Regions from separate parts of the Homo sapiens genome. Here region 2 is linked to region 1. Evidence: fine-mapped QTL for protein levels in blood plasma. A gene starts in region 1. The other region holds a variant in brackets. All regions are shown on one strand. Distances are from middle to middle.

Region 1 (8,323 bases):
GAGGTCGGGGTCGCAGCCGCCGCCGGAGGATGGGCGGCCGGCGCACGGAGCAGGGCCGGGAGGGAGCAGAAGCTTCCGCCAAGAGCTCAGGAGCTGGGGCAGCCCTGGAGCTCTTCCTGCCCTTCTGCCCGCGGCGGCGGAAACTCCAGAGTCCCTACTCTTTCTCGGGAGGACTTTAGGGAAGAAGCAGAGCGGCAGGGGAAGCCGAGGAGCGAGGGTGCGACGTGGGGATGGAAGGACAGTGGGAGGCACACGGAAAAACAGAACGAGGACCTTAGACAGGAGAGACGGAAGTGGAGAGAGGCTGGGCTGAAAGGCAGGGAGAGCCAGAGACTGACAGAGGCGGCGAGAAAGGAAGGGAGAGGGAGGGAGGGAGGAGGGAGGAGAAAGAGGGAGGGAACCAGGGGAGAGGGAAGGGAGCAGGCGGCGGAGCCCGGCGGGCGTGGGGCGAGGCCAGGCGTGCAGGCGGGAGCAGCGTGCAGAGCAGCGGCCGGGTTTTGCTCCCGCCTCGGAGCCCCTGGCCCGGGGGAGGGGGAGAGGCCGCTAGCCTGGTCTATGTCTTTTTCTGACTCCAGTGCAACCTTCCTGCTGAACGAGGTAACCGTGGGGGGGGTGTGGGGTCGTGGGAAGGGGGTTCCCCACTGGGTGGGAGGAGAGCTCCGCTCCAAGCTAGGAAGGGGGCACGCGTTTGGGGGAGACTGCACCGATGGGGAGGCAGGGAAACCGGAGGAAGTGAGGCCAGGGGTGGAAGAGGCACCGGGTTAGAGAGGAGGGAGCGGCCAGAGCTGGCAGCTTCCTAGTACTGGGATTGGATGAGAGGAGAGGACTGACTGAGGAGCCAGAAAAAAAGGGGCTAGATTACAAGAAGGGCTCTGCCAAGCTCCCCTAGCGCCTGTCCCTGAGTTCCCTGGCAGCCTAGCAGCCAGAATGGTAGGGGCCTCCACCTGGTCCAGATCTTAAAAACTGCTGGGGAGGAGTCTTTAAGTCTTCCCAGAAGGCCTAGCTTCTGTCTCAGTTTCCCCATTCAGTGCCCAGGGACTGGGATCTGCCCAGCTTCCTGGTACACTTAGAGGAGAAGCTAGAATATATTCTGAAACCTCCCAAGAAGGTTTCAATATATTCCAGCTCCCAAACCTGATTATTCAGGCTTTTCCTCTTATGTCTTGCTTCTATGACTTGGGTACCTGCCAGCTGCCAGTCTAACAACTCTCTCCTAGAAAGAATCAGCAGGAGGAGCCTCTCCCCTGATCCTTTATTGCCCTCAGCTCTCTCCCTTTATGCCCAGCCATGAAAAAGAAAAGAGGTTAGGGCTACATGGACACTGACAGGCACATGTCCTGTCACAGGACAAGAAGTCACCAAGTTGGTATTAGAACTAGAGTAGGCAGGTGTGGGTGAGAAATGAAAGGAACATTGGGTAGCAACCCAGAGATATGAGAAGAAGGAGGGAAGCTCTGAAGCTACTGCAGGACCCAGGGGATGGGCCCAGGTATGAGGAGCTTGAACCCATCTCCTGGGGATGGTTGGCATGGCAACACATGCCTCAGGAGCAGACTTAGACAACCTTGTCGCAGGAGATTACAAGGAGTGTGAGGAAGGAGTGCTGCCGATGGCAGATCCGCTGTTACCTACAGCCCCAGGACCTTCTGTGGGTGGAGAGAGTCCCAAAAGGAGAGGCCAGGAGAGTGGATGCAGGGATGGGAAGAGAAACAGCTGCCTCCACCACTGCTTTCTTCACTAGAGCCATCTCCCAGGAGAAGAGCACCTTGAGGGTCTTACTCTTTGACACCTCTCCAGGCCCCTGAAAGAAGGAATTGAAGAGAAAGGATGAAAGAGGGGGATACAAGGAATACTGCGTAACTGGGTGAGGGCACAAAAGTGGGCAGTGTCTGGGAACTTCCAATACAGAAGAATCCAGTATATGACCAAACCCCAGTTGGTGCTGGACTCAGGAGAGGAGACAGTCCCTTCAGCCACAGGGGCTGCAACAAAGTTGTTTGTCAAACCCAGCATGAGGAAGGTGCTGGGCAGGGCTGCTCTGGGCCACCCACAGTAGACAGACTAAAGATGTCAGTCTGAAGATGCAGCTCTTCTTTGTCTTGCCAAGATAACACCGATAAGTGACCCAGGTGGGAAGCCACTTGGTTTGGGTGGGCTTTCTCTCTCCCATGCACAGTGCTTTCTACCATAGATCTTACTAAGCCATGTCAGAGTTTTGGATTTCTGATTCTCCTCAAGCCAAGGAGGGATGAGCAGATTGCTGAACTCCCGGGTGTGAGAAATTGGGAAGGAAAAGGACTGAGCTCAGGGCCAAGAGCATGGGCACCAGGAGGCCTCCAAGTGTAACCCCTGTCTACGCACATCCTCCTCGTGGGGCACAAAGGTAGGCAGTCAAAAATCAAAGAAGGAATTTTGCTCAGGAGATGAAAAAAGGAAAGAGCTCAAATGGGTGGATCTTTGGGGAAAGTTTCCTCAAGATAAGGGCTGCGGCTCTCTTACCCCAAATCTCAATGCTCCTGTAAAGGAGACTGAGTGGTGCAGAGTGGTACAAGCCCTTCTGCTAAGGGGAGAATCTGGCCTTACCCTAGTGACTCCGAGGAGACTGGCCCTTTCCTCTCCCAACCCGAGTGTAGCCAGGATCCCACCCACAACTATCCCCCTACCTCCACCCTCTGGCTTCTTTCCCCTTCCCTTTAGGCTCACCTAAAACAGCCCCTTTCTGCCCCAGTTCCCACGGATGCCTTGGCACTGTCTGGCACAATCCTTGGCAGGGAAGTGGGGAAGGGAACCCCCATCCTGGCAGGACTAAGACAAAATCTATCCGTGCAACAGGTGTGGGGAGGCCTACCCAGCTCACGGAAAGTTCCCCCCTTCTCAAGGGTTGGGCAACACCGCCTTTGCCGCAGCGTCCCCGTACTGAGGGGGCCGGGCACCTGTTGGGGCAGGAGCTGCCGTCCTGTCATTAGCCTGGGGGCACCAAGCCCATTCCTCCCCGGGACCACTGCGGGGTTTGCTTTCGGAGCCTCCGGGACGCACGGGCCCAGACCCGCCCTGCTGTCGCCTGGGACCCCTCCCCCGTCTGCCGCTCGTTCCCGCGCCTCTTCTGTCTCCCACGGTCTCCCCATTTTCCTGTCCTCTCCGTCCTCCCTCTGCCTCTCTCTCTCCGGTTTCCTCGACACCTGCGCCCTCTCCAGTCTCCGCCCGGGTCGCGTCTCCCTCGCGGTCTCAGCGCCCCCTCCCTCCCCCGCCGCAGCCCTTTGTTTCCCGGCGGAGTAGTTCCTGGGTTGCCGAGCGTCTCTGTCTCCGCATCTCTCCTCGCCCCGCCTCCTCCCTGCCTGGATCCGCCCTGCCCGCAGCCTCTCCTCCCCTTCCTCCCCGCCGCCACGGCCCCGTAGGTGCTCGGGGACCCACCTTCCACCTAGCACGGGTTCGTTCCCCTCTCCCGGCCTGGCCCGGGCTCCCCGGTGGCCGCCGCCCCCTCGCCGCCCCCGCCTTCTCCCGGGGAGGGGGTCAGGTGGGCGGGCACTATTGTTGTAGGAGCCGGCGCCAGATTCCTCAGCCGCGCTCGGGGTGGGACCGGCTGGGTTTGGGGGGGTGGGGTGGGGGGAGCGGTGATCTGAGCTCCGAGCAGCTGGTCTTCGCGGCTCGCTCCCTCCTTCGCGCTCTCTCGCTCCCTGCCGCCGCCCGCAGGGCTGCGGGGCTCGGTGGCATCTCCCGGGCGCGGCCCGCAGTCCTTGCCCCTGCCTCCGGGCCGCTCCCGCCCCCGGCGCCGCTCGCTCCCCCGACCCGGACTCCCCCATGTATGACGACTCCTACGTGCCCGGGTTTGAGGACTCGGAGGCGGTGAGTGCCCACGATGAGGGTGGGGGCGGGGAAGTTGGGGTGACACCTCCTCTCCCTTCAACCCTTTCCCCGGTTCAGGACTTTGAAAAACGCCTCAGTGGCAGGGCAGGGTTTGTAGGGGGGCGCTCTAAGAACGTGGGGAGATGGATTTTCATGCCAAGCGTTCCCCAGCGACCCAGACTCAGACCCTGGGGCATCGGGTGTGTGCAGAGAGGGGGCAGTATAGGGGAAGGGCTCAAGCAGGTGGCTCCACGGCCCAGGAAAGAGGGGTGGGAGAAGGCAGGGCTGGAGGCCGAGGGCACAGAGGCTCTGGAGAGGGAACACGCCATGTCTGGAGTTCCAAATTCTGGATTTCTGGGGTCTGAACACAACAGCTAGGAGAGCCGCCGAGGTGGTTGGGGAGGCAGACATTCTAGACCTCTTGTGCCTCAAGCAAACGACACATCAGGGAGCTGAGAGGACATCAGGGAGCCAGGGGCCAACCTCTTCAGACAGACGGATCCTAAAACTTGAGGAGCTCCATTATTCCCTTCCACCCCCTCCATCTCTGCGCATTGCCTCATCTCCTCACCCTTTCTCTAGCCCAGTTTCTCTCCCAGGCTGAAACCTGGGCGCCCAGCACATGGGTAGGCCAGGTGACTGAGCCCCATCTATTCCACAGCCCCCTGCTGAGGCTTCCTCTGCAGCGGGCATCCTGAGCTCTTGCCCAGCATGGAGGGCCTGGAGGTGAGGCCAGAGGAGCTGAGGGCCTGGGGATGGAGAGGAAGCGCTTTGCTCAGAGAAACAGGCAACCGATAAATATTTAATTCTCCTCTTTGCTTTTATCTCCTGACCCACTGAGACAAATCAGCTCATTAAGCAGTGATTCCCGGAGCTCAGACAGCAGGGAGAGTGCCTGGAAAGATGGGGCAAGAATGCGGAGCAGCTTCTCAGCCCCTTGGAGCTGACAACTTTCCCTCAAATGTCCTGTAAGAAGGCCTCCTTAGGAGTGGACCACTAGATGGCTTGGAAGGGGCCCCAATAGGTTGGAGCACCCCTGGGTCGGAAAGAGGAGTTCATGTTCAAGTCTTCTCCCATCACTTACTGCCAGGCCCAGGATAGATGAATGCTGATGTTCAGAATAGGCAACTGTCCTTTTCTGGGACTGGTCTCCTTCTGGGCCCAATTCTCCATGGGGCCTCTGGGGCTAATTACATTGCCGCTAGATCAGATCATTTTCAAGGCTCTGGTGGACACCTCTTTCTGACAGTTGAAGGGACAGCTGGTATAGCCCAGGGTGCCAAGGTGAGCTTGAAAACAAACCTCTCTGTGGGGCTGGATGGCCCTAGGAGGTTCTTCCCATCCCTGGTGAGAAGGCAAGGGCTATTGCAAGGAGCAGACTGACATGTGGATGGTGTTGGAGGGCAGCCTGCTGACCCATTGCTCCCTCCCATCTCTCTCTGGCTCTGATCACCCTCCCCCACTTCCCTTTCTCTTGCCTGGCTCCTTGCTCTCCCTGAGGCCCCCTCTGAAGCAGTAGGAGGGAGATCAGGCTCTAAATAAATCCAACGGCTCATCTCCCTCCTCTCCTTCCCCCGTGCCAGGCAAGAGAGGAGCTGCAGCCTGCCCACACACTCACTAGGCAAGGGGGGCACCACCAGGGCACTGTGCCAACTCCTGGCAGCTCCAAAGTACTGAAACTCTGGCTATTTTGGCGTAGCAGGGTACAGGAAAGGTAAGACCCTAGATCATGCTTGGCAGGGCAGCCCTGGCCTCCCCAAGTAATACTGGAGCACTAGAGATGAGTGAGCCTGGAGGACTTGGGAGTAATGGAGAGGGGGTTCCATTCTGAGCACAACTCATTAAATATTTAGGAAGAGATCCTGTGATTCCCATCCCAGGGTGAGAGGTCAGGTAAGCCAGATGCCTCAGGCGTTATGATTACTAAATTAGGCCGCCAGCGGTGCCTCACACCTGTAATCCCAGCACTTTGGGTGGCCGAGGTAGATCACTTGAGGTCAGGAGTTGGAGACCAGCCTGGCCAATATGGTGAAACCCTGTGTCTACTAAAAATATAAAAATTAGCCCAGCATGGTGGCACATGCCTGTAGTCCCAACTACTCAGGAGGCTGGGGCAGTAGAATTGCTTGAACCCGGGAGGCAGAGGTTGCAGTGAGCCGACATCGCACCATTACATTCCAGCCTGGGCATCACAGTGAAACTCCATCTCAAAAAAAAAAAAAAAATTACTAAATTAAACCAGGCATAGAGACTCATGCCTATAATCCCAATGCTTTGGGAGGCTAAGGTAGGAAGATGGCTTAAGCCCAGGAGTTTGAGACCAGCCTAGGCAACATAGCAAGATCCTGTCTCTACAAAAAACTAGTAGGCATGGTAGCGCATGCCTGTAGTCGTAGCTACTCAGGAGACAGGAGGATCGCTTGAGCCCAGGAGTTCAAGCCTGCAGTGAGCTACGATTGTGCCACTACACTCCAGCCTGGGTGACAGAGCAAGACCTGTCTCTAAGTAAATAAATAAAATAATAAAAATAAAGATTACTAAATTGGGCTGAGAGCCTGGAGCACAGGCAGAAAAGGTCAGACTCCTCTTTTAGCACAGTTCTGGGCCTCTGGGAGGTACCCAATGTATCTGTACCAAAGCGAGTGGTCATCTGCCTTGCCTCCTGCCTCCCAGTCTGTTGGCCCCTGTCTGGTTGCTTCAGACACCAACATCCCACAGAGGTTTCTCTTGTGTCCTAAGACCCCTGGGAAGGAGGTCCCTCACCCTGTGCAAAGATTATTTCTGGGGTTCATCCCCCACTTATCCTGCTGCCATCCAGCCTCATTTTGTTCTCAGGAGAGATGAGGAACAGTCGGCGGACTACTCTTCTGTAAAATGAAAGATCTTTCCCCCTTGTGCTATCTTCAGGCCTTTGGTCTACTATAGACACTGTCTTTAGCCTAAGGCTCGAGAGCCTGGGCTGACCCCTAGCTGAACAGCCCTCTTGCCCACGGCAGGGTAGGGGTAGAGGGCATGGTTGACAGCAGGTATGTGATTTTGCCTTCTTCTCTGAGAGTCTGGCCTCTGCTGCCTTCCGTAGGTGGTCATGCCCAGTGAGCTTGAGAGAATGTTCCTCTACCTGAGGACATTCTAAAGCCCCTTCCCCTATACACACACACACTCCTGCATGAACCCCTTATCTAGGCTTATCCCTTCTCTCTGCCACTGGCATCTCAGAATTGTGGGAAGTATCACTTGAGGCTTCTCCCCACAGAGAGGGAAAACTGAGGCAGGAAACGAAAGACTCCCTTTCCCTGACAGAGGAGGAAACCCAGACATTGTAACCTCTGGGCTCTTGTCTCAAAGTCCAGCGTCCCTTACTCATTTGTGCCTCTCCCTCATGGTCTTGAGGCTGAACTCTGTGACCGTCAAATGCACCCTCATTGCCCAAGACCTTTCCTATGGGCAGGACTCAGAGACTCTCCTTGCTCATGTTACCCCCTCCCCACATCCCCGGGGTCCTGCTCCGTAGCTAGGTTGCCTGGCACTAGCATAGCCTTCTTCTAGGGCTGATGTCCCCTGGGCCTGGGAAAGGACTAGGGAGATGTAGGCCAAGTGGTAGGTGTGGCCCAGCCTCACCTGCACCCAGGGAGACAGCTTTGTGTTCTTGGTCTGTGTCTTGTTTGCTGCCCACACCTGGCTAGTTGCCCCAGCAGGTGTGGAAGGAAGAAAAGTAGGGGGTGGGGAGAGCAAAGGGGAGGTAACTTCTAGGAGCTGGCAGCTTTGTGTCCTCCTCTTCACCCTGGAAGGGTAAGGGCTCACCATTTGGGAGCCTTCAGAGCCTTGTTGGAGTAGGGAAAGTGGAATCTTAGGGGGCAGATGGCTGGATCCCCACATTCAGGACTGGTGCTGTGCCAACCAGCATCTCTTGACTGTTGCGGCTGGCTGGACTCCTGACAGGCATCTTAAAGGGATGATGTCCAGGCTGCTTTGCAGGCTGCTATGAACAAGAGGGCTGGGTCTCCTGGATCCAGAATCATCTCTAATACATCATCTTCAGCACACCTCCCTTCCCTCGGCTCAGAGGACATGTTAGAGGGGAGAAAAGGGAGGAAAGAGAGAAGTGAAGGCTCTATTCAAAGCTGCAGTATTAATAGGCTTGGGGGAGGAGGGGCCCAGATCTTTGCACCTATGGATTGGGCCAGCTTTCCTGTAGCCTCAGAGGCACTGGGGCCCTTCTCAGGGGATAGGAGGGGCCATAGGGACCCAGCTATCCCCTTGGAGATGGAGAAACTGGGGGCAATAGAGGCAACACTGTAAGGTGAGGAGGGTGCCTCCATGGCATCCTTCATGCCGGAGCCTGGGAGTCACAGCCTCTTTCCCAACCCAGGGTTCAGCCGACTCCTACACCAGCCGCCCATCTCTGGACTCAGACGTCTCCCTGGAGGAGGACCGGGAGAGTGCCCGGCGTGAAGTAGAGAGCCAGGCTCAGCAGCAGCTC
Region 2 (8,323 bases), 23 kb before region 1:
CATGCCGGACATGAATATTAGAGTCTTAAGTTCCGACAGGGCAGGGCCACCATCAAATCTATTTCTAGCACTACAGAATATTAGGACTTTTTTTTTTTTTTTTGAGACAGGGTCTTGCTCTGTTGCCCAGGCTGGAGTGCAATGGCACGATCTCGGCTCACTGTAACCTCTGCCTCCTGAGTTCAAGCGATTCTACGTCAGCCTCCCAAGTAGCTGAGACTACAGGCGCTTGCCACCATGCCCGGCTAATTTTTGTATTTTTAATAGAGACAGGTTTCACCATGTTGTCCAGGCTGGTCTCAAACTCGAGCTCAAGCAATCCACCCGTTGTGGCCTACCAACGTGTTGGGATTACAGGCATGAGCCACCGCGCATGGCCAATTGGAAGGTTTTAACTCTGACAAAGAGAAGAAAGAGAGAGGCAGTCAGCAGGAACTGTATTTCTCCACGTCTAGCTTGCTTGATCTCAACGACCTTTTTTTTTTTTTTTTAATAATACAGACCATAGTCACAAGAGTGATGTATTTTCAATCTCTCATTTTCAGGAAGAGGAAACTCTTACAAGCAGAATGTATTATATGTAAGTGTAAGCTTCACACAGCCAAAAGTGTATCTGGACAACACTCTATACATAAGCAGTGTTGAAAACACCCTGCAATGTAACTAACGGATAGGCTTGAGTGCCCTGAGCCTTCCTTGGGTTGTTTGGGTTACAGCTAAACTAGCCTCTGCCTACGCCCTTTTACAAAGCAAAGATTCCTTTTACAATGCAAACAACCATTCCCTAGCTTTTCTGTCTTAAAGATCAAAAGTCTGCACAATTTGGCCAGGCGCGGTGGCTCACGCCTGTAATCCCAGCAATTTGGGAGGCCGAGGCGGGAGGATCACCTGAGGTCAGGAGTTCATGACCAGCCTCAACATGGAGAAACCCCGTCTCTACTATAAAAATACAAAATTAGCCGGGCATGGTGGTGCATGCCTGTAATCCCAGCTACTCGGGAGGCTGAGGCAGGAGAATTGCTTGAACCTGGAAGGCGGAGGTTGCGGTGAGCCAAGATCGCGCCATTGCACTCCAGCCTGGGCAACGAGAGCGAAACTCCGTCTCAAAAAAAAAAAAAAAGAAAAAACACCAAAAGTCTGCACATTTTATTTTCTGAAAGTAAGAAAGACATATAAAAACAATTCACAGCTGGGTGCGGTTGCTGGTGCCTGTAATCCCATCACTTTGGGAGGCCAAGGCGGGCAGATCACCTGAGTCAGGAGTTTGAGACCAGCCTGCCCAACAAGGTGAAACCCCGTCTCTCCTAAAACTACAAAAATTAGCCCGGTATAGTGACACGCGCCTGTAGTCCCAGCTACTGGGGAGGCTGACGCAGGAGAATAGCTTGAACTCGGGAGGCAGAGGTTGCAGTGAGCCGAGATTGCACCACTGCACTACAGCCTGGGGAACAGAGTGAGACTCCGTCTCAAAAAACAAAACAAAACAAAAAAAACACATTCATTCAATCTAGCAAATATGCCTTGTCCGTTTCACTACCCCTAACATCACTGCTGCTACCACCACCACCACCATCACCACTCCAGAGACTCACAACCCCTTCTACTTCCAGGGTTGGAATAGGCTCTGGCCAACTCCATTTCCACCGCCACCACCACCACTACCCTTGAGAATGGGCTCAACTCCAGGGGGATACAAAATCCCTTCCCCATCCCCTTAGATCCATTATTCATTCATCCCATATTTATTTATTTATTTATTTATTTATTTATTTATTTTTGAGATGGAGTCTCGCCCTGTCACCTACTCTCGCTACTATGTGTTAGGCACTCTTCTATTAATAGGTGCTGAGGATACAGTAATTGAACTCAGCAGACAGAGTTCCTAGTCTCATTAAGCTTACCTTCTAGTGGGAGGAAACAAGAAATAAATGAATAGATGAGGCTGGGCATGGCAGCTCACACCTGCAATCCCAGCACTTTGGGAGGCTGAAGCACAAGGATCACTTGAGCCCAAGAGTTTGAGACCAGCCTGGGCAACATGGTGAGACCCCATCTCTACAAAAAAAAATTATTTAAAAACTTATGAAAAAATGATGAGCCAGGTGCAGTGTCTCATGCCTATAATCCCAGCACTTTGGCAGGAGGATTGCTTGAGCTCAGGAGTTTGAGACCAGCCTGGTCAACATAGCGAGACCTCATCTCGACTAAAAAATTTTAAAAATTAGCCAAGTGTGGTGCTGTGCACCTGTGGTTCCAGCTTACTCAGGAGGCTGAGGCAGGAGGATCACTTGAGCCCAGGAGGGCAAGGTTGCAGTGAGCCGTGATTGCACCACTGCACTCCAGCCTGGGTGACAGACCGAGACACTGTCTCAAAAAAAAACAAAACAAAAAAAAGAATAAGCTGGGCATGGTGGCTCATGCCTGTAATCCCAGCACTTTGGGAGGCCAAAGCTGGTGGATTGCAAGGTCAGGAGTTCAAGACGAGCCTGGCCAACATGGTGAAACCCCATCTCTACTAAAAATACGAAAATTAGCCGGGTGTGTGTAATCCCAGCTACTCAGCAGGCTGAGGCAGGATAATTGCTTGAACCCTGGAGGCGGAGGTTGCAGTGAGCTGAGATCCTGCCACTGCACTCCAGCCTGGGTGACAAAGCAAGGCTCCATCTCGGGAAAAAAAAAAAAGAATAGATGAGAAGATAGTTGATGATAAGTGCTATGATGACAATTAGAACCCAGGATCGATAGGAAGTGACTGGGGTAGAAACCTAGGTATGGCTGTCAAGAAAGGTCCCTATAAGGAAGTGCTATGTACATGCAGACCTGAATGACAAGGAGTCAGCCATGCAAAGAATCTGGGTAAAGAGCATTTCAGAGGGAACAGCTAATGCAAAAGCCCTAAGGCAATAGCAAGCTCACGGTGCTTAAGAAACAGAAAGTCAGTGAGGCTGAAGCCCATGTGTTGAAGGAAGAAAGTATAAGATGAGGTCAGAAAGGGAGGCATGCCCTAGCTAGTGGAGAAGCTCTTAGGCCAGGGAAAGGAGTTTGGATTTCATTGAAAGTGTAATGAGAAGCCTTTGGAAGGTGTTAAGCTCAGAAGTGGCACGATCTGATTTATGGTTTTAAAGGATCATGGTAGCTGCTGAGTGGAGAATAAATTGTGGGATCAAGGGATGCAAGGGAAACCACTTAGAAAGCTATTATAGTGGTCCAGGTGGAAACAGTGGCTTGGACAAGGATGGTGATAGAGGGCGGGGCTGCTGAGAAGTGGAAGGACTCAGGAAATGTTTTGGAGTTGGAGTACCCTAATGACCTGCCTTGGCTCTCTCTGCATGGTTTATGCATATCAAATAATTATCAACAATCGACAAATATTTATTGAGTTCCTACCACGTCCCAGGCGCTGTGCTACGCACTGGAAGTTACAGCCCAGAGGAGAAGGCCCACTCCACCTCCTTCTGCCCTACTGCCATAGGAGCTCTAGTTTGAGGAAGCTACTGCCCATCCCAACCTCACCCCATTTGCAGGGCGAGAGGCACACCCATTACCCCACCCTACCCACCCCTGCACTCTATTCCAATGCCGATCTGGAACTGATGGGGTGGGGGCAGTATTTACAGTTGGAGAATTGATGCCATAAAAAGAAGAGTCCAAAGTCCTCTTAAAGGTCTCAGAGCAAAGACCAGGAGAGCCCAAAGCTTCCAGAGTGGAGAGGGAGTACAGCTAGGGCCATGAGGATGAGGCAACTCTTGGTGCCCACACCACTGCTAGTCCTTCTCTGGGTTTCCAGAGCCCAGACTTCCTCAGTCTTCACTATCCCATTCCGCCAGCACCTATTCCCTCGTCCCCACCTTAGTAAATGTCTGGGTCTTGTATGCCCTCTGGTGGCACAATCATGGTACTGCAGCCCATAGTTAGTTCCCAACTTTTCGCTACTCAATCTATAGTCTTCTCTGGCTCACGGCTCCTAGGGGCAGTATGGGAAATTCTGGAAATCAGGGAAGGGCTGGAACACTGGTCTCTGGGTGTTGGAGGGATGAGCGCACCCTCCATCTAGTTTTATACGCAATGCCAGATTCGTCTTTTATGAGTTGAATTAACCATGTTTGAGCACCTACTGTGAACTGATCCCAGTCACCAACCCGCTGACCCAAGCTCAGATGACTGGCCACTCCTACCAAAAGCTTAGAGTCTGGAGCTGGGGGGTGTGAAGAAGCAAGAGCGGTTTAGAATTCATTCTGCTTTCAGCAGCAGTGTCAGAAGCCCGAACTTGACCCTCCTATCATTCCTGCTGCCTAATTTCTCTTTGTTCCTGCCTGTTTTTTACGCCTTATACTCTTGCCTTTCTATCAGTTCTGTGAGCAAGTTATTCACTATCCTTCCAACAAATGTCATTTCTGCTCCCATTAGTTGGAGTCTGTTTCTGTTTTTACAATCAAGATGACTGGTATGTGTTGGGCAATTCATCAAGCCTTTCTGGGCCTTAGTTTCCCCCTTAGTAAAAAAGGGAGGATAGCAATGACTTCCATGCACAAGGCCATTTTTATTAAACAAGTGTATTAGTTCTCTATTGCTGCGTAACAAATTACCACACATTTAGCAGCCTAAAGCAACACACGTTTACTGTTTCATAGTTTCTGCCTATCAGGAGACTGAGCATAGCTCAGTGGGGTCCTCTACTTCAAGGTCTCACAAAGCTACAAGCAAGATGTTAGCTGAGGCTTCAGTCTCATCTATGGTTGGAATAAGGAAGGATCCAATTCCAAGCTCATGTGGTCGTTGATAGGATTCAGTTCCATATGGGCTGGGCTGCTGGACTGAGGGCCTCAGGCACCTTTCCCTTAGGCCTCTGCCACATGGCAGCATGTCTTCATCCAAGCCAGCAAGAAGAGATTCCGCTAGCAAACAGAAGTCAATGGTCTCTTATAGCCTCATTATAGAAGTGCCGTCCATCACCTTCTGATGGATCAGAAGTAAGTCTCTAGGCCAGCCCACAGTCAAGGGGAGGGGATTACTCAAGGGCATGAATACCAAGACGTGGGGATCATTTGTGGCCATCTCAGGTTTGCCTG[T/C]CACAATGTGGTAGCTGTTAGTCATCTTTCAAGGACTCCTCAAAATGCCACTTCCTTCTTGAGGGCTTTTTAAATTCTTCCCCCACCCAAACCCATCAAAGTTAACCCCTCTTACAAATGATGAAACTTGAAAGTGTGCTGGATATTAGATGGAATTATGTTTAATTGTGTTAGGGAAGGGTAATGTTATTTTTTTATTTTTTTATTTTTTTTTGAGACGGAGTCTCGCACTGTCACCCAGCTGAAGTTCAGTGGCAGGATCTCAGGTTCGCTGCAACCTCCATCTCCCGGGTTCAAGTGATTCTCCTGCCTCGGCCTCCTGAGTAGCTGGGATTACAGGCGCGTGCCACCAAGACCGGCTAATTTTTGTATTTTTAGTAGAGACAGGGTTTCACCATGTTGGTCAGGCTGTTCTTGAATTCCTGACCGCATGATCCGCCCGCCTGGGCCTCCCAAAGTGCTGGGATTACAGGCGTGAGCCACCGTGCCCGGCCGGGTAATGTTATTTTGACACTAAGAAATTCCCCCTAATTTTAACATTTATTTATTTATTTAAATTGACAAATAAAAATTATATATATGTACGTAAATTGTGTACAACATGTTTTGAAATATGTATACATTGTGAAATGGTTAAATCAAGCTAATTAACATATGCATCACTTCACATGCTTATCTTTTTTTTTTGGTGGTGAGAACACCTAAAATCTACTCTTTTAGCAATTTCAAGTATAAGATGCATTGCTATTAACTCTATTCACCACGTTGTGCAATAGATGTCTTGAACTTATTCCTCTCATCTAACAGATTTTGTATCCTTTGGCCAACTTCATTTCGGCCCAATCCTCCCACTCCCCAGCCTCCGGTAACTGCCATTCTACTTTTTCTACAAGTTCAACTTTCTAAGATTCCACGTATAAATGAGATCATGGCCAGGTGCAATAGCTCATGCCTGTAATCCCAGCACTTTGGGAGGCTAAGGCGGGCGGATCATGAGGTCAGGAGTTCGAGACCAGCCTGGCCAACACAGTGAAACCCCGTCTCTACTAAAAATACAAAAATTAGCCGGGTGTGGTGGCATGCACCTGTAGTACCAGCTGCTTGGGAGGCTGAGGCAGGAGAATCATTTGAACCCAGGAGGTGGAGGTTGCAGTGAGCCAAGACCACACCATTGCACTCCAGCCTAGGTGACAGAGAGATTCCGTCTCAAAAAAAAAAAGAGATCACATGGCATTTGTCTTTCTGTGCTGGGCTCATTTCACTTAGCATAATATCCTCCAGGTTCATCCATATTGCCATAAATTGCAAAATTTCATTCTTTTTTATGGCTGAATATTATTACATAATATATATACTGTATACTGCATTTTCTTTATCCATTTTTCTGTTGATGGACACTCAGGGTGATTCCATATCTTGGCTATTGTGTGTGTTGTTTTTTGTTTTTTTTGTTTTTTTTTTCTGAGACGGAGTCTCGCTCTGTCGCCCAGGCTGGAGTGCAGTGGCACAACCTTGGCTCACTGCAACCTCTGCCTCCTGGGTTCAAGCAATTCTCCTGCCTCAGGCTCGTGAGTAGCTAGGCGCTCGCCACCACGCCAGGCTAATTTTTGTATTTTTAGTAGAGACGAGGTTTCACCATATTGGTCAAGCTGGTCTTGAACTCCTGGCCTTGTGATCTGCCTGTCTTGGCCTCCCAAAGTGTTGGGATTACAGGCATGAGCCACTGCGCCTGGCCTTTTTTTTTTTTTTTTTTTTTTTTTTTTTTTTTTTTTAATAAGGACAGATCTTGCTTTGTTGCCCAGGCTGGAGGGCAGTGGCTATTCACAGGCATGATCATAGTGCCCTGCAGCTTCCAACTCCTGGACTCAAGCAATCCTCCTGCCTCAGCTTTCCAGAGTAGCTGGGACTATAGATGTGAGCCACTGTGCCCAGTTACTATATCTTGGCTATTGTGAATAAAGCTGCAATAAATATGGGAGTGCAGATATCTCTTCAACATACTGGTTTTATTTCTTCAGATATATACCCAATAGTGGGATTGCCAGATCATATGGTGGTTGAAATATGTTCTTTCTGAGTGATACTACTGAAGTATTTCTTGGTGGACTATCATGATGCCCACACTTTTCTTTAAGATATTTTACTCAAAAAAGAAAAAAAAAAAAAAAAGGCCAGGCATGGTGGCTCACACCTGTAATCCCAGCACTTTGGGAGGCCAAGGTGGGTGGATGGCTTGAGGGCAGGAGTTCAAGACCAGCCTGGCCAACATGTCGAAACTCCGTCTCTACTAAAAATACAAAAATTAGCTGGGTGTGGTGGTACACACCTGTAACCCCAGCTACTCAGGAGGCTGAGGCACGAGAATCGCTTGAACCCAGGAGACGGAAGATGTAGTGAGCCGAGATCACGCCACTGCACTCCAGACTGGGCAACAGCGCAAGACTCCACCTCAAAAGAAAAAAAAAAGATATTTTAGAGTAGTAAGGAGAGGGTCATAGGGACATCCTCCCTTTTACTCCCAGTCTCCTTGGCTAAATAGTTGCCATGGAAAAAGTAGATTTTGCTCTTTCCAGAAGTGGTCCAGGAAGCCAGCTCTGTATATGTGTGTAAGAGGTGAGAGAGACTGAAAAGATTAACAATATCAAACTTTCTCATCTCACAAGCCTCAAAGGGCCTGTATGTGAGTGCAGATAACTGAAATCGGTTATCTCCCTGATCCTTGCCGGCATATCACACAAATGTTTGGGAGTAACACTGGGGACAAGGGTCGTCTCCCCCCCACCCCGCCCCCACACTGGAAGTTTTATTTCTTTAGGATTCTATCCCAACCACTCGCTTAAAAATCAAGTAACACAGACCTGAGGGGTAGGAGCTGGGGACTGCACCTCCCTGCTACTCATGGAGGACAGCAGTGCGAACGAGGGAGGGGCAGGAGAGGCGGCTGAAGCAAGGCAGCAGCAGAGGTAACGGGGCCACGACCTCAGAGAACCAGCTCCGTCCTCTCCCAGACCCTGGCTGGAGCCCCTATGGCTTGGGGTGGGGAGTGGGAGTACCCACCCCAGGCCCTCCCCTTCCTTCCTCAGACAGCCTCCTTGAGGGCTCAAGCCATTTCTTCTGGCAGGAGACTGAGGCACACGGAGAGGAGGAAGTGGAAGAGGAGGATGCAGGAGAGGCAGGGTGGTGGCTTGAATGAAGGCAGAGGTGACAGGCGTGGGCAAGGCCACTCCATCCCACCCACCCTGGAGAGGGGCAAG

Direction of the effects. Alleles are on the strand shown, and positions count from the first base shown. The strength of an association depends on the size of the effect and on how common the allele is.
For the plasma level of the protein whose gene starts at base 3,365 in region 1, allele C in region 2 goes with a higher level than allele T (moderate association).

The links. PIP is the posterior inclusion probability: the model's chance that the variant is causal. Protein levels are from antibody-based Olink assays in UK Biobank. Linkage for the fine-mapping came from a reference panel and not from the study's own genotypes, which makes the PIPs less certain.
Region 2: its variant is fine-mapped to the plasma level of the CACNB3 protein (UK Biobank, PIP above 0.99).

What each region holds. Positions count from the first base shown.
Region 1 is chr12:48,815,132-48,823,454 of GRCh38, forward strand. It overlaps CACNB3 (calcium voltage-gated channel auxiliary subunit beta 3), which reads left to right and starts at 3,365. Exons shown (of 13, transcript NM_000725.4): 1 at 3,365-3,843; 2 at 8,213-8,323. The coding sequence starts at 3,799. LOC101927241 (a long non-coding RNA gene) reads right to left here and starts at 1,801. Exons shown (of 3, transcript XR_245978.4): 1 at 1,629-1,801. RefSeq lists an enhancer at 1-426 and silencers at 377-456, 3,163-3,632.
Region 2 is chr12:48,792,140-48,800,462 of GRCh38, forward strand. It overlaps the pseudogene ADISSPP1. Among named protein-coding and RNA genes, the nearest start is that of ADCY6-DT, 7.2 kb to the left of the region's middle. RefSeq lists a silencer at 3,727-4,021. The variant T/C (reference allele first, on the strand shown) is at 5,070.